Linked DNA regions of Homo sapiens: region 2 is linked to region 1. The links come from fine-mapping of genetic effects on plasma protein levels. A gene starts in region 1. The other region holds a variant in brackets. All regions are shown on one strand. Distances are between the middles of the regions. Region 1 holds the start of ROBO1 (roundabout guidance receptor 1). Region 2 has its middle 440 kb from the start of LINC02050.

Evidence for each region. PIP is the chance, under the fine-mapping model, that this variant and not a neighbour inherited with it causes the effect. The UK Biobank Pharma Proteomics Project read protein levels with antibody pairs (Olink). The fine-mapping took linkage between variants from a reference panel, not from the people measured, so its PIPs are less certain.
Region 2: its variant is fine-mapped to the plasma level of the ROBO1 protein (UK Biobank, PIP 0.96).

The regions. Positions count from the first base shown.
Region 1 is chr3:79,761,642-79,773,691 of GRCh38, reverse strand. ROBO1 (roundabout guidance receptor 1) reads left to right here and starts at 5,694. Exons shown (of 31, transcript NM_002941.4): 1 at 5,694-5,940.
Region 2 is chr3:80,314,329-80,326,378 of GRCh38, reverse strand. No RefSeq gene overlaps it. Among named protein-coding and RNA genes, the nearest start is that of LINC02050, 440 kb to the left of the region's middle. RefSeq lists an enhancer at 11,375-11,874. The variant G/A (reference allele first, on the strand shown) is at 7,337.

The DNA.
Region 1 (12,050 bases):
CTGCCTGTACAGGCACATCATGGGTGATCAGGCCATGCTTCCACTCAGGGGGAGTGGGCTAGTTCTAAAGACCAGTCTTACCAAATTTCAGATGTCTGGACTCCAAGTGTCACTTCCTTCCCGGTGTTCAGCCACTGCATTGATCTTCCATGGGGGCCTGCCACAAGCTGTTCTGGTGAGGCATTCCACTGGGGCAACTGCCTACCAGGGAGCGCTCTCAGGATCCACATCACTCTAGCTGGCTGGAGTCCCCTGCAGGGATGCTCCACAGGGCAGGCCTAAGCTGCCTAAGGGGCTGCCTCAACCTTCGGCTAATCACCTCGCTTCCAGGTCAGGGAACCAAGACAGGTCAGGGAACCAAGAAATGTAGCAGGACAAGCCGCAGACAAGAACACTTCAGACACTGAGTTATAGAAGGAAAGGGCTTTATTCAGCTGGGAGCATCGGCAGGCTCACGTCTCCTAAAACTTAGCTCCCCCAGTGAGCAATTCCTGTCCCTTTTAAGGGCTTACAATTCTAAGGGGTTCCACGTGAGAGGGTCGTGATCCATTGAGCAAGCAGGGGGTACGTGACTGTGGGCTGCATGCACCAGTAATCAGAATGGAACAGAACAGGACAGGGATTTTAATGATGCTTTTCCATACGATGTCTGAAATCTATAGATAACACAAGCAGTTAGGTCAGGGGTTGATTTTTAACTACCAGGCCCAGGGCTCAGTGCTGGGCTGTCTGCCTGTGAATTTCATTTCTGCCTTTGTAGTTTTTACTTCTTCTTTCTTTGGAGGCAGACATTGGGCATAAGACAATATGAGGGGTGGTCTCCTCCCTTAACTGAATGAGTAAGTGATTCATAACTTTAATGTTAGCTTTTGAAGTTGGTCCAGGACAAAAGCAAATAACGGAATATGATTAAATTTAGCTACCTAAGAATTATGGTATACGAATAAAAATATAGTTTAAAATTATTTCTGTCTTATTATGCTTTATAAGCAAGTCTTTGGGAGTCTTTAAAAGAGATCAAATGAATAGCCTTTAAATACATTAAAGTTTGGTTAGATTTCCTTCTAAATAGTGTAAACAGTTGTGTCTTTTGAAGGGCAAACCATGAAATCTGACCATTAACTTTCATATAACATACAGAAAATTGTTGTTCAGCTCTTAATTAGTGGAGTAATGGTGGCATAATATTGTATATATGTATATTTATATTCATTTATTTGCTCTAATTCAAAATTTATCTGACATTTTACATAGGTTTAAATTTTTTGTCTGTTTTCACAAAAGTATGTGGAGCTTTTATTCCCAGATTTCTTAGGACAATAGGTAGAAATCTTAAGAACTTCCTGTTCAAATTTAAAATTATCTATTAACATTTTCTCTAATCTGGAAAGTCTATAGTAGATGCCAACCCTATTTCGTGTTTGTGTTGTTTTGCCAAAGTATTTTACTTCCACACTTTTATTGTCAACTTTTATCTTGTTTGCTTTATAATCTTGTTTGCTTTATAATCTTGTTAATAGTAGAAAATATCCTCTTCTAGCCTCTTTCTTTGCAAATTTTTATTGGAATTTTAATATGAGCATTCCATTTATGGTGATCATCTTAACCAAATCACTGTGCCATGAAGTTCTCATCCCTTCCACTTAATGTCAAGTTTAATTGACCTTTTTGAAGTTCTATCTTTCTTCTCAAACGTATCATCTTATATAGATATTTTTAACACTTGAGCTGTACTTTCTTCACCTACTTTAGCAATTCATACAGATTAGTTTTGAGCCATGTATTTAGATGTGGTGTCTTGCAACATATATATACACATATGTGCATATATATGTGTATATGTACAGATGTGTATACATGCGTATATATACAGATGTGTATATATGTGCATATGTGCATATATACAGATGTGTATATATGTGCATGTATACATGTGTGTATATGTGCATGTATACATGTGTGTATATGTTGCATGTATACGTGTGTATATGTGCATGTATACATATGTGTGTATATGTGCATGTATACATATGTGTACATATGTATATGTGTATATATATATGTATATTTACGTATATGTGTATACATGTGTATATATACGTATGTGTATACATGTGACTATATACGTATATGTGTATATATGTGTATATATGCGTATATGTGTATGCATGTGTATATATGAGTATATGTGTATGCGTGTGTATATATGCGTATATGTGTATACATGTGTATATGTGTGTATATATGTGTATATGTGTATATATGTGTATATGTGTGTATATAAGTGTGTATATACATATATGCGTATATGTGTGTATATACATATATGCGTATATATGTGTGTATGTACATATATGCGTATATATGTGTGTATGTACATATGTGTGTATATGTGTGTATGTACATATGTGTATATGTGTGTATGTACACATATGTGTATATATGTGTATGTACATATATGTGTATATGTGTGTATGTACATATATGTGTATATGTGTGTGTACATATATGTGTATATGTGTGTGTACATATATGTGTATATATGTGTGTATATATACATATATGTGTGTATATATGTGTATATATACATATATATGTGTGTATATATATATTGCTGTTTAGTACTGATTTACACTTTTAAAGATGCCTGTTTAGCTGTTAACATTCTTTATATTTCTGCTTTCAGAATATAATTTATATGTCTGGTAGTTTTCCTTTTCATCTGTCAAAATCAAGCATGGATAAATATTCTATTTAAAGAGACACATAGATCAATGCCTGTGGCTTTGAAATTTTTTAAACTATACATATTTCAAAATTACTCAAGGCAGAATTTTTTAAATAGCTTGGATAGTAGCTGAATGTCATTATATTTCATTAAGTTTTATCAAGTGGCATGCTATTGCGTGTTTACCCACCTAAATTTAGAAAGGAAGCTGATTGTAGTAATGACAGACAGGGATATGCCATGTATGTTTTGCTTTCCAACTTTTATAGATGTTCACAGTAACCACAATAAGGCATTGTCATCATGATCCAAGGACATAATGGATATCAGTTTCTGACATAGCATATATTGTCCTTGAAAATTGCACTGACAAAATGAGGGGTCCAACAATACTTCAAATAATAAAGAATAGATCAAGGATATTCCTACAGATCTAGGATATATGAAAACTATTGTGGTTCTAATATCCTTCTTTAAAATATGTTTTGCCTTAGTATCCAAGAAGTAAGGAAAATATATTTGCAACATTTACAACTATATATTTATTTTATATATATATATATATATATATATATATATATATATATATACATCTCATATGGTAATAATTTGGATAAACAAGTAATTTATTGAAGAGATGTAGAAAACTTTTTTAAAAAAATAGTAAGTTAAACTTAAGTTTCTGTTTAGCTTGCTATATTTTTACATCAGTCTTTTATATAGAAAGTAAAAACTTATCAAGAGATTATATAATAAATTTGTTATTAGGTCAGTTTTGGTTTATTTATTTTCTTCTGTTCACTATTATATGTGTCCACTATCAAACTTCCCCATTTAATTATGGTCATAGATAAGCTGCATTGATTTTGTATAAAATCTGTCAGCTTGTGTAAAACACATCTTTTCTCAGTTCTAAAATGATACACATTAAATGCAGAACTTTCAACTTGTAGTTGGGTTGCAAATGATTTTTTTCAGATCCCCTTGTAGAAAGAAGTTGAAACACCAATAATTTACTTGTTTTAGAAATAAGATGAATGTCAGTCATCTTTATTCAACTTTGCATGGTCATTATGCTTTTCTTACTATATGAAATAATAGCTTTTCTTTTCTTTTACAGATTAAAAAAAAGTCCTTTATACCCTTATACTGAATATTGCAACACTTTGGTATTTTCATTTTAACTCTATTGTAAATGGAGAAATTATTAACCTGAAGTAAAGTGATTGAAGTAACCCTGAATAAAAGTTATTCAAAAGCTATTTCAGTGACACAATAGCAATGGATATATACAGCAAATTGACTCTGATACAATGCCAATGATCACATCTTTTCACTCTGAATTAGTGATCATGGATATTTTTAAAAATATGTGTTTGGTGCAAACTTTGCAAATACACATAAAAATACTGGATTTTCTAATCCCTGAAAGAAACTCTCTTCTTTCACCTCTCAGTCGTGTAAGAGTTAACTCTGTTTCCTACAAGGATGCAATCTGTAAGTTAGGTCTGGAAGGCAGCAAAGGCAACCTGGACTTGAAGTTAACACTTCTGTTGTCAAGGGTTACTGATTGGGGGAAGGGAAGGGGCTGTAAAGGGAAAGAGTTACGGAAATGAAGAGGGATTGTAGCACACACTACATAAATTCAAATGCTTTACATGTATTTGGAATAAGATCTCGAGTCTGTTGTATTTTTGCATTGTGTTTTCATTTATTTAGTTTACACATAGGTAGTGAATTTATAGGTTGGTTGATGTTAACCTTATCCAGAGTGGCCCTTTCCAACAATGTTCATTCAGTTGTACATTACATATATGTAATAATTTTGTAATTAAATTGGAATTTATCACAATTATTTACATCAAAGACAATAAAATTATGTTACTTCCTAAATTATAATATCAGTAAATATCGTATCTAGGATTTTGTGGAAAGTCTATGTCATTTTAGTTTAAATAAGGATTTCTCTTTTCCTCCACAAAATTAAAGGTCAAAGAAAACAGCATGTTTAAGACTTCAAATTAATATATATTAAGATTCAGCATTTAATATTCTAATTCTTAAAATAACTGGCTTTACCGATGATGAACTAAAGTGATTTTGCACACTATTACAATATTTCAAATTGCTAGTCACCACAGGTCGGCCTCACTTTAAATCTCCTTGTTATGCCAATTTGCATTACTAATGAACTTGCTAAGAGAGAAACTGTAAAAAGATAATGTAGCAATTAATAGTAAATGCTTGACATACTGTGACATTATAATACCTTTATGTTGATTTATATCTTTATGTCAATATTTACAAGGAAAATATTTTTGAATTTCTAATTTTGCGAAGTAAAAATGATGCTGACGCCATTGTCATTGATGGAATTTTTTCTGTAGCATTTGACTAATATAACCCGTGTTTTATAATTGGTAGACTCATATTTTAGCTTCTACTATCTACTACCCATGTAAGGTATTTTATTTGTAGTAGCTATGAATTGTAAATACAATTGGGTGTTGTGTGTACCTACGTGAAGTGCAGAAGTATTTGATTATATAAAATTTCCTGGATTTATATGAGAATAATGCATAATAGAGAGCAAAAGAGGGTTTTCCTGCCAAAAGTGTCTGTGTGAATTTTCCTTCGAAAATGTTCTTTTAAAATCCTTTGTATGATCAAAGCCACTCCACACAGACAATTAAAAGCAGCTATGGAATGATAGATCACATGACAGGAGTTAAATGTAAGGGTTTTTTTTTTTTTTTTTCCTCCCCCCTCGGTTAAACATCGCAGCAGGCATTACAATACCAGAGGTAACGAATCAATTAAATCCATTTTCCCCTCGGCGTCTCCAAAGCTGCGTGCCTAGTGTTGCTGTGTAGTTTAGACCGGAGCAGTAGGACCCAGGGGCCTCCGCAGCCACCAATAGAAGCGCACACTTGGACCTATTTGTATGCAATGCCTTCTGCTCTGCGCATTAATAGTAATACAGATAACGGGTTTGAAAGAATTCTCTACTGAAGAAGGATTGAATTTTTCCAGGGTGCTGATACAGAGAAGAAACCCGACTTCACTCTCTCCCTATTTCCCCACTCTTAGGTTTAAAAGTCTGTCACCTTTCGCTTGGTTTAAACTCGGAAAGGTCTCAGTGCACAGCAAAGTTGCAGGGCTGCGTCTGCACTACGGAGCCTCTAGATTGCTGAAAACAGTCTTATGGAAGGGTAAGTCTCGGAAATGGTTGCAAGGGAAGTGACAGCTGGCTTTTGATTTGTAAAAGGGGACACGCTGGGTTTTACACTAGTGGTTGTTGGAGTGCAGAATGGTTGCCGAGAGGACTCTGCAGTTTATCCAGAAATTGTGGCTGATGCGCCAGGGTGTTTTGGGGTAGAATCAAAAACCTTCAGGCTAAATCGGAAATTGCAGCCTTGCGATCGGGAGGGATTCAACAAGTTTTCCTGCAGGGATGCGATGTTTGTTTCTTCCTTGCCAGTTGTGCAGAGTGTCCGTTCCAGGTAGGCTGCGGCTGCTTAACAAAGAAGTTTTGGAATTTGTTTGTTGTGTGTGTGGCTGGGCTAACCCTTGTTGGAGTAGGTTTCGTGCCGCTTTTGGCTTCTTGGGGGCACACAGCGGAATTTGCTCTAGGGATGCGGCGAGCATCAGCGGTGTAGTGGGCTGGGGCCGGGCAACTTTGCAGCCTAATCTCAGTGCCGCTGACCGCACCGTTGTTCGTGATGTGAGCTGACTGAGGCATAGACACGGGCAGGCTGCAGGGAGCTTCCAAACTTTGAAAGCATTCTCCAGGAATGGATGCGCGTGGGGGCTTTGAAAATAAGCGTTACTAGGTGGATTTTGGTAAACTCTTGGCGGTATGTAGGCAGTGGGGACTTTTGACACTTGCATTTCCAACCTGCAGGATTTTGCTTGAAAACATGGTGCTGATGTGAAGACGAGAGCTTAAAGCTAAGCCAGCGGGGACTTTGAGGGAGGAAATGAGGGAGGGAAGGAGGAAGAATGAGAGAAGACAGATGAATGAAAAAGGTGCGTCCCATCTTTCACACACAAAAACCACACGAGTGGGACGAACCAGGAAGCGCTCCAGTTGGTGGCGTTTAGCTGGAAAACGTATTGCAGGGAGGTCCAGGAGCCTCTGCATTATTGATGAAACGCCGTGCCCTTCTGGGGCCCCTTCTTGCTCCTTCTCCCTGCCCCATCTTGCCAGCCCCGCTTCCATGAGCCTTCGGTTCCAGCGTTGGCGCGGGTGCGGCTGCGCGCGCGGCTGGGTCCCACAGCTCTGAGAACACAATGGGGAGAAGCAGGCGAGCCCTGCGGGCGGCCGATGCGGAAAACTCGGCGTGGCAACCCCACTGCTGCAGCCTGGGCTGCCGCTCCACCCGGGGCAGCGGCGCTGCAGAGACGGCTTCTGCCCAGTTGCCACGCGCCCTGAGGTCTCGGAGGACCGCGTGGAGGGCGCTCACACCTGGCCGCTAAAATCCTGGGATACCCTTCTAGGAGTCACTGTGTCCCACGCAGATGGGTGGGGTGGGGGAGACGGAATGCTAAGACATCCCACTCCTGCCTCGAGTCGGAGCTCCCACTACTCAAATATCCTTAGTGTGCACCCCAAGCATCTAGAGGACCTGCGCCCCCAAGAAAAAAGGACACGAAGGGGGAAAGAAGGGAAATGTTGATGAGGCTGCAAGAGGGGAAGGAAAACAAGCAATTTAGGGCAATTATGGTCAATGGTCAGGCTTTTCTGGGCTCTTTTAAGTGGATTGATTTAGAGGAGCTTTGAAATGCTGTCCCTGGCCTGTCTGCGGCACTAAAGGGGGCAGATTTCCAGACGCAGGAACTCACTGGAGGCTCCTTCTATAGATGAAGGGAGGAAAGGGCAGGGCAGGAGGCTCATTTCACAGGGTAGTTTAACCCTGACCTCAGCACCTCCCACCCTTTCACGCCCCGCCAAGGAGTGCCCCGACCTTGTAAACTCCTCTGTGTCATCTGCCCTGTGTAAGTGATTTTCATCAAGCTGTGTGTTACAGAGGCCTGTTAAGAGATGGTTGTCTGTTTCCAAGTAGTGGTGGGAGGTTGTTTAATTTGGAGGTTGCTTGTCAACCCGGGCTGAGCGCACAGAGGAAGGAGCGTAGATGCAGGACCCTATAGAATGGGCCACTTGGGGTTGTCAGTTACTTGAAGGCTACACATCAAAGGAAATATACTGATTGAGCACCTGGGGGAAGACAATGCCATTTCATTTTTTCCTCGCTTTCCATGTGCCTCCTTTACTGTGGTTGTTTGGGAACTAGGATATAATAATTACAAAAAAAAGTTGAAAATCCACTGATTTATTTGGAAGCCTCATAACTGGGTTTTCAGGCCCAAACTTGTATTCTCCTAGCAGCTATTATTTTGAAAGCCTCAGTCTGACACCTTAAAACCTGCTTCTCTACTATATCTTGAGGAGGCACTGGTAACTTTCAAAGGCAATCTGTAAGCATGCATCATGTTGATTTTGTTAAAGGGAAGAGGCAGTGTTGGTAGATGTTCCATCAATATTTGCCCTTCCAAAATCGGCCCCCACCCCCCAAAAAAAGGAAGAGGAAGCAGCAGCAGCTCGGAGCAGATATCCAGTTGGTAAGATGACTTTGTTTCTTATGGACCTATACCTCTCCCATGAGGGATAAAAATTAGGATATCTAAGGAGTGGGGGCATTCACCTTATATTGTTGCCACGGTTTTTGGACTTCCTTTAGCCTTTTCGCACATATCTTCCTGCTCCATGCCTCTTCCAATTTAGCCCTGTAGGAGCTGCAGAATTGAAGCACAATGACACAGCTGCAGATCCCTGGTGGAGCCTTGCTTCAGAAAACAGCTGTTAATCACATGTTTGTTGTATTTTCCTATTTACTTCCTTTTACTTCCCTTCGCTTCCCTTAGCCTGTCCTTGAACCAGTGTTACCATCTTCTGGGCTCTACTCTATGAAGGTTAGTGATTTCCAGTGATATAGCACTGAGCTGAGCATGGGAGGAGGGGAGAGACTCAACAGCTGCCTAGGGAGTCCCAAAGGTTTAATGCCAACTTTCTCTTACCCTATACTGCACAAAATAAAGAACAAATACCCTAATATCTCCCCAAAGAGAACTGCATTGTTCTGTATAATTTTCTTTTATCTTATAACATAGTAGAATCAATTCAAATACAAAATAACATTGACCAGAGATGAAAAGGAAGCTATACACTTGTGTGCACTATTTGGAAAGTAGTGTTGTGCTTAGCTATAAAATCTCACTTTTTGGCCTTCATCTATACTTAATACATTAGGAACTACTTTTATTTAAGCAAGATTTAATGTATTACTTTCATTACAAAGCTGAGAAACTCTAGACACCACAAAGATGTGAATTTTAAATGAAAAAAAGCAAGGCAGTAAAGTAAGCCCCTGGCAGCTTGATGAATGAGCAGGTGCAATGCACCATTTGAAATGTATCTTGAGGTGAGCTTCCACCAATCTGCTGGAGAATGAGCTCCTTCTTGCCACCTAAACTCAACTGATTTTCCTCTTTCTGAGACCACAGACAAAAACATGATAGCATACAATAGGCTAGATTATGACCTGGTCACATAATCATTTATCTCTCTAAACTTGCTGTTGAAGTGAGCAATGTTACTGTTAATGTATTCATATTTGTACCTAAAATATATTAGTGCCAATTCTCCTAATTCTATAGGAAATTGAGGTCCTAGAAGGCTAACTGACTAATTCAAAACTACATAGGATAAAACTGTAGAAACAGTGTTAGTCACCGTACCTGCAATAGATATTTCACTTAATCCCCACATAACCCTTTCAAAGTAGGCTTTATTAGATGTCTACAACACATGAAGAGAATGAAGCTCAGAGAGTTTAAGGAAAATAGACATGACTATTCAGCCAAAAAGGGGCAGAGCCAGGATTAAAAACAAGTTCTTTCTCATGACAGAGTACATGCTTTTCTAGTATGTCATACTGCTGCTTTTAAGGGAGCCATTCTCTTCAGTTAACTGGACCTACCTATTTTCCCCCATATTTAAACAAGGAGTTTGATTATTCCTTGAATTTTATTTTAGTACTCATAATTTTTTAATCTCCTTGATATCTTTTTCATGTCCAAAGCATTATCTGCATTTCTCCAAGAGCAAACTTTTACAGTTACTTTCCAAGGATCTCATAAACAGTAAATAACTTTTTCAGAAAATATACCCCACCCCTATCTGCCACCCTGCCTGTATCATCTCTGGGGGTCAGAGCACTTGGGGAAAACTGAGGGGCTTTCCATTTTCTTTGAAATTTGTGCATATGTAGCCAGGATGCCTGCTAAGGATCCAGTACGTCAGTTTCAGCCAGTTGTTCTTTTCTGCCTTTCCATTTCTGCACACGTGTCTTCTCTAATCTGCAAAATTATCTTCTTCATTTGGCCAAACCCTATCCATTTGTCTAGGGTGGTTCATGTTCCTTCTCCACCATAAAATTTTTCTTATTATTCCAACCCTATTGCTGTTCCTTACCTCTGAAATTCCAAGTAATTTCCAATAACATCTGCTGTCTAATTTGGTCTTTATTCAGGGATTAAGAGGAGTAAGCTAACATTTTTTGAGCCTTTACCTTATATACTTTTACATACATTATCCATCAACTATAAATTTCTATTTCTTCATTATATTTCTGCATTTTGCCCTTATTATTTTTTCGCACTCGATAGTCACCCAGATGTTGTGATACATTTCCGGAGTTTCAGTAATGACATTCAAATTTTATATTTCTTGTCCATGCATTGCTCCTGATTGTCATACCTATATTTCCAAAGATCTAATTTCATCTCCACCTAGAAATGCATCACAAGCATTTTAAAGGAAACTGTCCTAAAGGAAAGCATTCAAAGCCACAGGTATCATCCTCCCTGCCACACTTGCTTATCTCTTTAGATTTCCAAGTGGTAAATAGCACATCATGCATCAAGACACATTCCTCTTTGCTATGTCCCTCTGCCTCATTCCCTATGATCATGTAGTGAAAAGAAAAAAAAAATTATGATTTTTCTCTTGAACTTCACCTCTTCTCCTCATGGGCCTGCCCTCCAATTCTTACTTCCACTTCCTGGGATCAGCCATTTGAAGTCATGTGCAACAAGTTTGGCGAGCTATCTGTCAGGGCAAAAATGACAATTTCTAAACTCCTTAGTCATTGAAGGTACTCTGTGATATGAAGCATGAATTCTTCTTTTCAGTCTTCAGAATTATCAATTACTATGAAAATTTACTTGCATTTTCTTAAACACTCAGGATGTTTCATTCCTCTCGGCTTTTGTGTGTGTGTGTGTGTGTGTGTTTGTCCAGAATTCTGCCCCAAATGGTTCTCACTTTCTTATTTTTTTAGCGATGTTTGAAAACACAAAACAAGTGTCACTTCTTCTGTGAAGACCTTCATGTTAAGAAAATAGGTTTAAGTATTCCTCCCTTTCTGATCATTTAATAATGCCTCTGAAATTCCATTGTAATCATTTATTCGTTTCTACTATGAGACTGCGCTATGTTCTGAATGCTGTGTCTTCTCCAAATTCATATGCTGAAATTAAAATTAGGAAGTGGGGCCTTTGGGAGATGACTAGACCATGAAAGCAGAGCCCTCAGGAATGGAATTAGTGCCCTTATAAAAGAGGTCTGAGTAAGCTCTCTTGCCCCTTCCCCCCCGACTAAACATAAGAAGATGGCTGTCTATGAAGCAGAAAGTGGGTCCTCCCCAGACACCAAATCTTCCAGCGCCTTGATATTGGACTTTCCAGCCTCTAAAACTATGAGAAAAGCATTTCTATTGTTTACAAGGCACCTATTCCATAGCACTTTGTTGTAGCACCCTAAAGATACTAAGACAGACTCTAAATTCTGTGAAGCAGTATGTCTCAAACTTTGTCCATTGAACCAAATAAATCTTAAAAGTGAAAAAAGTAGCCCTTAAAACACCAGTCCCAGGATCCCCCATCAGAATTACTACAATAGAATATATGGGGGTGGGGCACTTGAGTCCACATATTAACAGAATCTATTCCAGGTGTAACTAGGAACAGGGAGTTTATCACAACAATTGCTCTCCAATTCAGTCAGATCAATATGGCACTTAATTTAGCATTTGGGGGAGGAGCCATTTGCAAAGCTTTTTAGATCTTATTTTGTGTCTTCCCAGATTACCGTGCTTCAGAGAAAGATTTGCTTAGAGTATAGTAAATTAGATCACATGAGTCACTCTTACTGAAGTACAAGAGTCCTGCATCAGAAAGGCAGATTTGCCAAGAGCAGAAT
Region 2 (12,050 bases), 550 kb before region 1:
AAAAGTCCAAAGTCTAATCAGAAACTTGAGTCAAGTTCCTTCCTCCTATGAGCCAGTAAAATAAAGTGTTTACTTTGAAGATACAGTGGTAGTATAGGAACTGGTTAAGTATTTCCATTCCAAAACAGGGAAATCAGCCAAGCGAAAGGCACAGCAGGCCCCATGCAAGTCTAAAACCCCATAGGGCAGACATTAAATCTTAAAGCTCCAAAATAATCCTTGATTCCGTGCCTCACATCCAGGGGCACACTGATGTAAATGGGCAGCTCCCAAGGGCTTGGGCAGCTCTACCCCTGTAGCTCTGCAGGTTGCAGCCCTGTGGTTGCTCTCACAGGGTCTGAAGCTGAGTGCTGGCAGCTTTTCCAGGCTTAAGGTGTACACTGCCGGTGGGTCTACTATTCTCCAGTCTGGAAGGCAGTGGCCTCCTTCCCACAGCTCCACTAGGCAGTGCCCTGGTAGGGACTTCAAATGAGGACTCTGCCCCAGCAGCAAACTTGGTCCTGGGCACCCAGGCCTTTCCATACGTCTTCTAAAATCTAGGCAGATGTTGTCAAGCCTCCTTCACTCTTGCATTCAATGCATCTGCAGACTTAACACCATGTCAAAGCTGCCAGGGCATATGGGAGATTGTGTTCTCCAAAGTGGCAACTGGAGCTGTACTTGGACCTTTTGAGCTGTGGCTGGAACTGGAGCTGCTGGAACAAGGTGAGTCCCAAGGCTGCATAAAAAAGTGGGGCCTCAGGCCTATTCCCTGAAACCATTATTTTCTCCTTGGCCTCCTAGGCCCCTGATGGGAAGGCCAGCCTCAAAGATCCCTGAAATGCCTACAAGGCCTTTTTGCCGTTGCCTTGTCTATTAGCACCTGGCTCCATTTTAGTCAGGCAAATCTCCCTAGCAAGTGGTTGCTCACAGACCACCTGTATTCTTCCGCTGTAAATGTTTTTTCCTTCTTCACCACATAGTCATGCTGCAAACTGTCTAAACTTTTATGCTCTGCTTTCCTTTTAAATATGAGTTTAACTTTAAGTCATTCATTTGCTCCTGTATCTGATCACAGTTTGTTAGAAGCACTCATACCAACGTTTGAACACTGTGGCTTAGAAATTCCTTTTGCCAGATACCTTAAGTCATCACTACTCTGAAGTTCAAACTTCCACAGATTCCCGGGGCATAGACACAATATGACAGCCACATTCTTGGCTAGGCCATAACATGGATGACCCTTACTCCAATTTCTCAACAACTTTCTCATTTCCATTTGAGAACTCTTCAGCTTGGAGTTTGCTGTCCATATTTCTATAGGTATTTTGGTCAAAACGACTTAACAAGTTTCTAAGAAGTCACCAAGTTTCCCTTATGTTCATGTCTTCTTCTGAGTCCTCCAGACTCTTCCAATCTCAACCTCTTACCCAGTTCCAAAGCCACTTTTACATTTTCAGTTATCTTTACAGCAATGTCCCTCTCCTCAGTACCAGTTTTCTGTGTTAGCCTATTTGCATTGCTAAAAAGGAATACCCAAGGCTGGGTAATTTATACAGAAATGAGGTTTATTGGGCTCACAGTTCTGCAGGCTGTACACAAATTAAGTAAATAGTGCTGGCATCTGCTTCTGGTGAGAGCCTCAGGATGTATTCAATAATGAATAAGATGTCACTTTTTAAAGCTCTAATTTATAAATCATGGGAAATAATATCTACCACAAGTTTAAAAAATACAATTATTATGTAGTATGATATCTAAATTAATAGGTCTTTTTAAAATATAGTTTTACTTAAATTTTCTAAAGGCATTTTGATATTAACAAACTCATTTTATATTATTTAAAATGGTATTAATAAAATAAGAACTCCAACATACGAAGAGAAATAGAAAAGAAATATCACATCCTTTTGGATAGAGAAAATCTTTTTTTTTTCTTTTGTTTTTGCCAAGGAGTGCATGTATGCTATACATTTTTCAGTGTTATTAATTCCAATAATGCCATATCAAAATCCAGTCTTCAAATTTTTCATATAGATTTATAGACTCAAACAGAGGTGAAACACAATCTCTGAGTAATTTATATATCCTGCTCTGTGTGAGCCTACATGTCTAATTTCCTTTCCCCAATGCTTCTGAAAACACATTAGGACATGTTTGCAGTATACACTACTATTAGTAATTGAAGTATTAATGTTGTTTGGGTATACTCATTACTATAGCCACCATTTTAGATTTATTCTATGATATGGAAATAATTCAGTTCTGTAAAGATACAATGGTGATTTATTTGGCTTCTTGGAGCCACAAAAGTCTTCAAAAGAATTCTTTTATTTTTTCTCCTTAATGAAACATCTACTGCATTACATTCTCATCCCCCCTTTAAATGCAATCTATATGTCACACTTAATTTTACATATCCTTTTAGGTCACACTTAGACTTTTACATGGTAAAATGCACAGCTATAATATAATTTACATATTTGATATTTGATAACGAATACATGAAAATTTCTGACCAAAAAATTACTGAATTAACTAGAAACAATTTATAGATTTGATATTGTTTTCTGGGTGAATTAACACTATGAATATATTATTTAAGAAACAAAACCATACATTTATAATTTTTTAAATAAATAAGTCAAATGTCAATTTAAGATGATCTCTATATTTAATTTTAAAATCTTACATCTAATATTTTTAGTGCTGCTATTTTATTCTGAGAGCTCAGAACATCATGTTTACGTTTTTCAAAGATACTGATTTTCTTTAAATAGCATAAAATCCATACATAATTTAACACATTGATATAAGAATTTTGACTTATTAATTGTACATTCAAGCAAAGTCTATATAATTATTGCTTTAATCTGTCTTTTCCCTTTGCCCTGTTTTGTTTCTTTCTCCTTTTCTTATTTTCCATTGCCTTTCTTCAAAGCTAATACATACAACAGTCCAGGTATTTCTGTTTTAAACCTTTAAAATAATGTTTATTTTCAAAGAACAGCTGTAGGCACATCATATTTTCTAGGATTTAAAGCTTAAAAATTATTGAAGATTAAATTGTTCATCACATGTCACACCACTAATACCTTTTGTTTTAAAAATACTACCAGGATAAATAGAGTATTTTTAATTTTTCCCATAACAATGCTTATATAATACAGATAACTCACTCTGCCATAATATATTTGTAAGAGAATTTTTAATGGATTATATAAGCCATATCATTAATACTTAAATATCATTATGTAAGAACAGTTTTAATACAGTACTTCTGAGTATACACCTTTGAGTTCATTGACCATTATATTTACAGCTGATGCAACATATCTTTGAAAATTGTATGCTTTGTACACGATTAGAAGATTAGTGGTTTTTGTAAGTTTATTACAATTTATATTATTCACTTATTATAGCATACATCGGCATGATATTACTTTAGGAGATATTAGGCAATTCAATGAAAATGCAATGTAATTTTGTTCTAATTACACTAAAAAAAAAGATAAATAATCAAAGCTTTATTCTCAAATTGAAACTATTGAGTTAAAAACCAATATATGCTTTCCAACACTTTAGTAGAAAATTTTGCGTCAAAAAACTGCATATTTAACAATCTCTACCTACCCTCTGTTGCCCTTTTTAAAGAAAGAGATTATTTGTGAATGTGTTTATAAACCATTATGTTATTTATCTAAAACAAAATTCCACATGCTTGTGAATAAGTAATTGTTTTTATGTTTAGACATTATTTAAACTCACAGTTTGCTAAGAGAACTATTTTAATTAATTTCTATTTCAAGAATAATACTTGCTATGACATTTCTAGTGTTTTCTCAAAATTCTTAAATTTATAAATAGACTACACACACATACCCATATACGTGTGTGTATAGATGGATATATGAAATATTAAGAATAAAATTATCACTAATATTGTCAACTTCATAAGAATGTCAAATAATTGAGGCACAAAGAACACATCTCATGATTAAAAGAATTATACATCAGATCATTAGAAAAAAAATGTTACATAAGTTTGATCCAGAAAGCTTAGTTTATTTGATTAAAATCATTATCATTCAATCATAAGACTTTATTTACTTCTTTCTTTGTATTTATCTATTTGTAGTGCCAGAATACACACACAAGCATATATACCTATATATGTGGATATACTATGTATTATTGGCTACTTTGTTGTATTTTTATTTCATTTCTATTATTTGACAAACTCACACCTAAATTTTGGGTATCTATACTCAATTCTTATACTATGCTACATGAGTTAATTGGCCGATAGTTTAACCCACAAACAAAATATGTTTCAAAGTGTGATCTAATATACATTTCCAGAACATTATAGAAATATATGTATATATTTCTATCTGTTGCTATTAAAATAAAAATGCATGTGGAAGAAAATTCCAGTTATTTTATTTTCTATTCATTGCAAATTAGTGTGTATTGTTTCATAAAGTAAATCTTTAGTGTTTGGTTTAAATGATTTGTGTGCAAAGCTTATGATTCCTTTAGAAATGTATTCCAAAAGTAAAAGCAATTGTGCTATTTTTTAAAGTGAAAAACCACATCTCTGTAATACTTTATTTTCTTTTTATTTCTATTTCTCATGTCTATGTTTTACATTAGCACAATCTTAAATGTAATTTAAAATGGCATAACATAAAATGGTCAGAGAAAATATATATCTTTTAGAATACAATTCCTGATAAATAATGCAATCATACATATTCTTTATTTCAGAATACTTTTTTCTTCTCTCATTCATTAAATTGATTCTATTTTGACTTTAAGAATATATTTTATCTGCAAAACCACAATATCAAAAACTTTCATGTCTCTAGAAGTCCAAATTTATATCTATGTACTTTAAAAACAAAATAATTCTTGAGATTAATATTAGCCTTTCTTTTAAGGGAGACATTCTTTTTGCCCTCACCTTCTGCCTTTTAACAATAATTTAGGTATCAAATCATTTTGCACTTTTTTTTTGAGACAGAGTGATTGACCTGTCTCTCTCCCGAGTATCTGGGAGTACAGGCGCCCACCACCACGCCTGGCTAATTTTTGTATTTTCAGTAGAGACGGGGTTTCTCCATGTTGGTCAGGCTTGTCTCAAACTCCTGGCCTCAGGTGATCTGCCTGCCTCAGCCTCCCAAAGTGCTGGGATTACAGTTGTGAGCCACTGTGCCCGGCCCATTTTAGCACTTATTAAATAAATTATTTGACAGCCTTCATATTCATTAGAGTTGCTCCTAAGTCAAAGAGACTGCTTAAGAAATTATCCAGGCCGGGCGCGGCTCGACGCCTGTAATCCCAGCACTTTGGGAGGCCGAGGCGGGTGGATCATGAGGTCAGGAGATCGAGACCATCCTGGCTAACAAGGTGAAACCCCGTCTCTACTAAAAATACAAAAAATTAGCCGGGCGCAGTGGCGGGCGCCTGTAGTCCCAGCTACTGGGGAGGCTGAGGCAGGAGAATGGCGTGAACCCGGGAAGCGGAGCTTGCAGTGAGCCGAGATTGCGCCACTGCAGTCCGCAGTCCGGCCTGGGCGACAGAGCGAGACTCCGTCTCAAAAAAAAAAAAAAAAAAAAAAAAAAAGAAATTATCCACTGTGATTAAGATTTTACAAATTTAGAAATACATCTTTTCACAAATCAAGTCAAATGGAAACTATTTTATCTCAGAAATAAATTCAGGCAATCAACATTGTAACAAAGGCCATTTGGCTCCCAATTTTATTGTGATAGGGCTGTATAGGTTACAATACACTGCATTTCCTCAATTGGGTATATAAAAACCCACCACTTATTAAGTTGTAGTATTAAGTTTTCATGTGAATTTATAAGCATGTCTTATACAACAATGTAAAATTTTCCCGCGTTAAATTCAGATGCTCATAAAAAGCCAATACTGCACAAAAACGTTCCATTAAAGTCATACAAATTTAGAGGATTATTTAGAACCTATTTTTTAAAAAGAAAATATTTTGACTATTGTTGCCATCTGACACATGCCAACCTTATGTTGAATAATATTTTCAGATGAACAGATCTATCTAATCCACCTTTCATATTTCTCCTTCTGTGCCTAAATTATTTCTCATAACATAATGCCTTCCAGGCTTATCTATGTTGCCTCAAATGACCATATTTTATTCTTCGTATGGCTAAATAGTATTCCATTGTGTATATATACCACATTTTCTTTATCTATGCATCTGTTGATGGTTATAATCAGCCAATTGCTCCCATAATAAATGAAATTAACACATAGAATCACATGGCTAATAAAAGGTTCAAATAGAGACTTTCAAGCAACCATTCTATCAAGCAATCATTGTATTTTCAGAAACAAAACTCTTTAGACAATATCCAAGTCAAATTCAGTTTCACGAAATCTTTCCAAAAACAAAACTCTTTAGACAATATCTAAGTCAAATTCAGTTTTGCCAAATCTTTCCAATAATATTTATCTTTCAGTTAAACCCCAATTGAATGAGTCTCAAAGCTTATAATAATTATTAATTTGGGGACATCATATTTTTTTCTAGTTTGAATTAAAGTCAGAAAAATCAATTGGGAAATTTTACTTTTGAGGATTTTTTAAATCTTCAAATTTCTAAGACTTCAGAAAAATAGGAAAAATAAAATTATATGGGTAAGCACCCATTTGTCTACGTTGAAAACAGAAGAAATGGAAATGGCTGAATATTATCAAATTATTTTTATTTTCTAAGTTTTCCAATTCTAACATAAAAAATAGAGCGTTCGATCTACAACAAGAGAAAATGTCTAATTTGTGGATCTCTATAGAAACCCACTCAGTATCTACAGGCTATAAGTCAATATAAAATTTTAATAAATAATTATTTTCTATAACACACTCTGTCTGACACACACACACACATGCACACACACACACACACACACGCCAGATCACATTGTGGCATTCTTATTCAGTAATAATATTTTGTGAGTTGGGGATGGAGAGATGTAGGATTTTACTTTGAACTGTCAGAGACTATAGTTTTCCCTTGAGCAGATATTTTGAAACGAAAAGCTCTTTAGTTAGTTTTAATGGGTTGGGTTCCAAGTGTTTCCTCTCTTTCCCTCTAGTGTCTCACCATGCAGGCACACAGTTACAAGTTCACTTTGTTTTATAAATACCACAAAAAAAAGCCACATAAGAAAATTGCTTTGTCTGAGGGCTGTAGCCAGAACCTCACAACACTTGGCAGCATCACCAGGAATTTGCCCAAGTTAAACTATCTGCTTTAAAAAGTGTGTGTGTACACTTCTTAAATTATTAAAGCTTTCGAATGATTCAT[G/A]CTTTTCTTTTTTTAAAACTTTTATTTTAGGTTCACAGGTACACATGCAGGTTTGTTATTTCTGGGTGATGAAATAATGTGTATACCAAACTCCCAGGTATTTCCTAGTTTGTAGGGTTTACTTTCCCTAGGTTATGGTTTCCCTGGGGGTTTGGTGTACAGATTATTTCATTACCCAGGTAATGAGCATAGTATTTAATAGGTAGTTCTTTGATCCTCACTCTCCTCCCAACCTCCACCCTCAAGTAGGTCCGGTGTCTGTTTTTCCGTTCTTCGTATCCATAGGTACTCAGTGTTTAGATTCCAATTATAAGTGAAAATATGTGGTAATTGTTTTTCTGTTCCTGTGTTAGTTTACTTAGGATAAGGGACTCTAGCTCCATTCATGTTCATGCAAAGTACATGATCTGGTACATTTTTATGGCTATGTAATATTCTATGGTATAGATGTAACACATTTTCTTTATCCAGACTACCCAATAGTGAGATTGCTAACAAGAGGTTGAATAGCAACTCTGTTTTATGTTCTTTCAGAAATTGCCAAACTACTTTCCAGAATAATGATTTAAACTAATTTACATTCCTACCAGTAGTGTATAAGCATTCCCTTTTCTCCACAACCTCACCAGCATCTGTTATTTTTTTGACTTTTTAGTAATAACCATTCTGAGTAGTGTAATATGGTATCTCATTGTGGTTTTGAGTTGCCCTTCTCAAATAATTAGTGATACTGAGTATTTTCTCATCTGCTTGTTGACTGCATGTGTATCTTATTTTGAATATGCCTGTTCATGTCCTTTGTCCACTTTTCAATGGGATTGTTTTTGGCTTGTAAATTTAAGTTACTTATAGATGCTACATATTGCACTTTTGTTAGATGTACAGTTTGCAAATATTTTCTCCTATACTGTAGGTTGTCTGTTTATTCTTTTGATAGTTTCTTTTGCTGTGAAAAGCTTTTTAGTTTAATTAGGTTCCATTTGTCAATTATTTGTTCCTGATGCAATTGCTCTCAGCATCTTCGTCATGATATAATTGCCCAGTTCTGTGTTCAGAATGTTATTTCCTAGGTTATGTTCCAGGGTTTTTATAGTTTTAGGTTTTACATTTAAGTCTTTAATTCACCTTGAGTTGCTTTTTGTATATGGTGTAAGAAAGAGGCCCAGTTTCAATCTTCTGCATACAGCTAGCCAGTTATCTCATCACCTTTCATTGAATAGGAAGTCCATCACCATTGCTTGTTTTTGTCGACTTTGTCAAAGATCAGATGGTTGTAGGCGTGTGGTCTTATTTTCTGGGTTTTCTATTCTGCTCCATTGTTCAATGTGTCTGTTCTGTACCAGTACCATGCTGTTTTGATTACTGTAAGCTTTTAGTATAGTTTGAAGTCAGGTAATGTGATGCCTCCAGCTTTGTTCTTTTAACTTAAAATTGCCTTGGCTCTTTGGGCTCGTTTTTAGCTCCATATAAATTTCAAAATAGTTTTTTTCTAGTTCTGTGAAGAATGTCATTAGTAGGTTGATAGGAATAGCACTGAATCTATAAATTGCTTTGGGAAATAATAACATTTTCACAATATTGATTCTTCCTGTCCATGAGCATGGAATGTTTTTCCATTTATTTGTGTCACCTCTAATTGCTTTGAGTAGCATTTTGTAATTCTCATTGTAGAGATTTTTCACCTCATTGGTTAGCTGTATTCCTAGGTATTTTATTCTTTTTGTGACTTATGAATGGAATTGGATTCTTGATTGGCTCTCAGCTTGTATGATTTTGGTGTATAGAAATTTTATATGTTTTATATATTTATATTTAAATTATATATTTTATATATTTACATTGATATTAATTTTTGTACATTGATTTTGTATCCTGAACCTTTGCGGAAGTTTTTTTCTTTTTTTTTCACATCTAGGACCTTTGGGGCAGAGACTATAGGGCTTTCTAGGTATACAATCATATCATCAGCAAACAGGGATAGTTTGACTCCCTCTCGCCCTATTTAGATGTCTTTTACTTGTGTCTTTTGCCTGATTACTCTGTCCAGGACTTGCAGTACTAGTTGAATAGGAGTGTTGAGATAGCTCATCCTTGCCTTGTTCCAATTTACAAAGGGAATATTTTCTGGTTTTGCTCATTCAGTATGATGTTGGCTGCGGGTTTGTCACAGACAGTTATTATTTTGACATATCTTCTTGCAGTGTCTAGTTTGTTGAGGGCTTTTAACATAAAGATATGTTGAATTTTATTGAAAGCCTTTTCTGCTTTCAATATCCAAGATGATTATGCGCTTTTTGTTTTTAGTTCTGTTTATGTGATGAATCATATTTATCAATTTGCATATGTTGAACCAACCTTGCATCCCAGAGATAAAGCCAATTTGATTGTGGTGAATTTGCTTCTTAAGGTGCTTCTGGACTCGGTTTCCTACTGTTTTGTTGAGGAAGTTTGCATCTGTGTTCATCAAGAATATTGGAATGAAGTACATTGTTGTTGTTGTCTCTCTGCTAGGTTTAGGTATCAAGGTGATGCTGGCCTCATAGAAAAAGTTAGAAAAGAGTTCCTCCTCTCAATTTTTAAAAATAGATTTATTAGGAGTGGTACCGACACTCCTTTACACATCTGGTAGAATTCGGCAGTGAATTCACCTGGTCCTGGGCTATCTTGGTTGGCAGGCTTCTTAACTGATGTGATTTTGGAACTTGTTACTGGCCTGTTCAGGGATTCAATTTCTTCTTGATTCAGTTTTGGGAACTTGCATGTGTTCAGAAATGTATACATTTCTTCTAGATTTTCTAGTTTGTGTGCATATGGTTGTTCATAATAGTCTCTGAATTTTTTTTTTTGTATTTATCTGGGGTCAGTGGAAATGTCCCCTTTGTCTTTTCTAATTGTGTTTATTTGAATCCTCTCTGCTTTTTTCTATATTAGTCTAGTATTGGTCTGTCTATTTAAACTTTTTTTCAAAAAAAAAAAAACAACTCCTGGATTTGTTGATCTTTTGTATGGTTTTCCTCACCTCAATTTCCTTCAGTTCAGATCTGATTTTGACTATTTCTTGTCTTCTGCTAGCTTTGGTTTGCTCTTGTTTCTATAATTCCTCTAGTTGTAATGTTAGATTATTAATTTAAGATCTAACTTTTTGATATGGACATTTAATGCTATAACCCTCCCAGTTAACAATGCTTTAGCTGTGTCCCAGAGATTCTGGTATGTTATATCTTTGTTCTCATAAATTTCAAATGAAGTCTTGATTTCTGTCTTAATTTTACTATTTACCTAAAGGTCATTTAGAAGCTGGTTGTTTAATTTCCATGTAATTATATGGTTATGAGTGGTTTTGTGTCCAGAATTGGTGGGCTCTTGGTCTCACTGACTTCAAGAATGAAGCTGTGAACCCTCGCGGTGAGTGTTACAGTTCTTAAAGGCGGTGTGTCAGGAGTTTGTTCCTTCTGATGTTCACATGTGTTCGGAGTTTCTTCCTTCTGGTGGGTTCGTGGTCTTGCTGGCTCAGGAGTGAAGCTGCAGACCTTCGCGGTGAGTGTTAACAGCTCTTAAGGCGGCGCGTCTGGAGTTGTTCATTCCTGCTGGTTGGTTCGTGGTCTCGCTGGCTTCAGGAATGAAGCTGCAGACCTTCACGGTGAGTGTTACAGCTCATAAAGGCAGCGTGGATCCAAAAAGTAAGCAGTAGCAAGATTTATTGCAAAGAGCAAAAGAACAAAGCTTCCACAGTGTGGAAGGGGACCCGAGTGGGTTGCCAATGCTGGCTCCCACAGCCTGCTTTTATTCTCTTATCTGGCCCCACCCACATCCTGCTGATTGGTAGAGCTGAGTGGTCTGTTTTGACAGGGTGCTGATTGGTGCGTTTACAGTCCCTGAGCTAGACACAAAGGTTCTCCATGTCCCCACCAGATTAGCTAGATACAGAGTGTCCACACAAAGGTTCTCCAAGGCCCCACCAGAGTAGCTAGATACAGAGTGTGGATTGGTGCATTCACAAACCCTGAGCTAGACACAGGGTGCTGATTGGTGTGTTTACAAACCTTGAGCTAGATACAGAGTGCTGATTGGTGTATTTACAATCCCTGAGCTAGACATAAAGATTCTCCACGTCCCCACCAGACTCAGGAGCCCAGCTGGCTTCACTAACCCAGTGGATCCCACACTGGGGCTGCAGGTGGAGCTGCCTGCCAGTCCCGCGCTGTGCGCCCGCACTCCTCAGCCCTTGGGTGGTCCATGGGACTGAGCGCTGTGGAGCAGGGGGCGGCTCTCATTGGGGAGGCTTGGGCAGCACAGGAGCCCACGGAGTGGGGGAGGCTCAGGTATGGCGGGCTGCAGGTCCCGAGCCCTGCCCTGTGGGGAGGCAGCTAAGACCAGGCGAAAAATCAAGCACAGCAGCTGCTGGCCCAGGTGCTAAGCCCCTCACTGCCCAGTACCGGTGGGGCCGGCCGGCTGCTCCAAGTGCAGCGTCTGCGGAGCCCACGCCCACCCGAAACTCACGCTGGCCCACAAGCACCACAGGGGAAGCCTGCGCCTCTCCCTCCACACCTCCTCGCAAGCTGAGGGAGCCGGCTCCAGCCTTGGCCAGCCCAGAAAGGGGCTCCCACAGTGCAGGGGTGGGCTGAGGGGCTCCTCAAGTGCCGCCAAAGTGGGAGCCCAGGCAGAGGAGGTGCCGAGAGCAAGCCAGGGCTGTGAGGACTGCCAGCACGCTCTC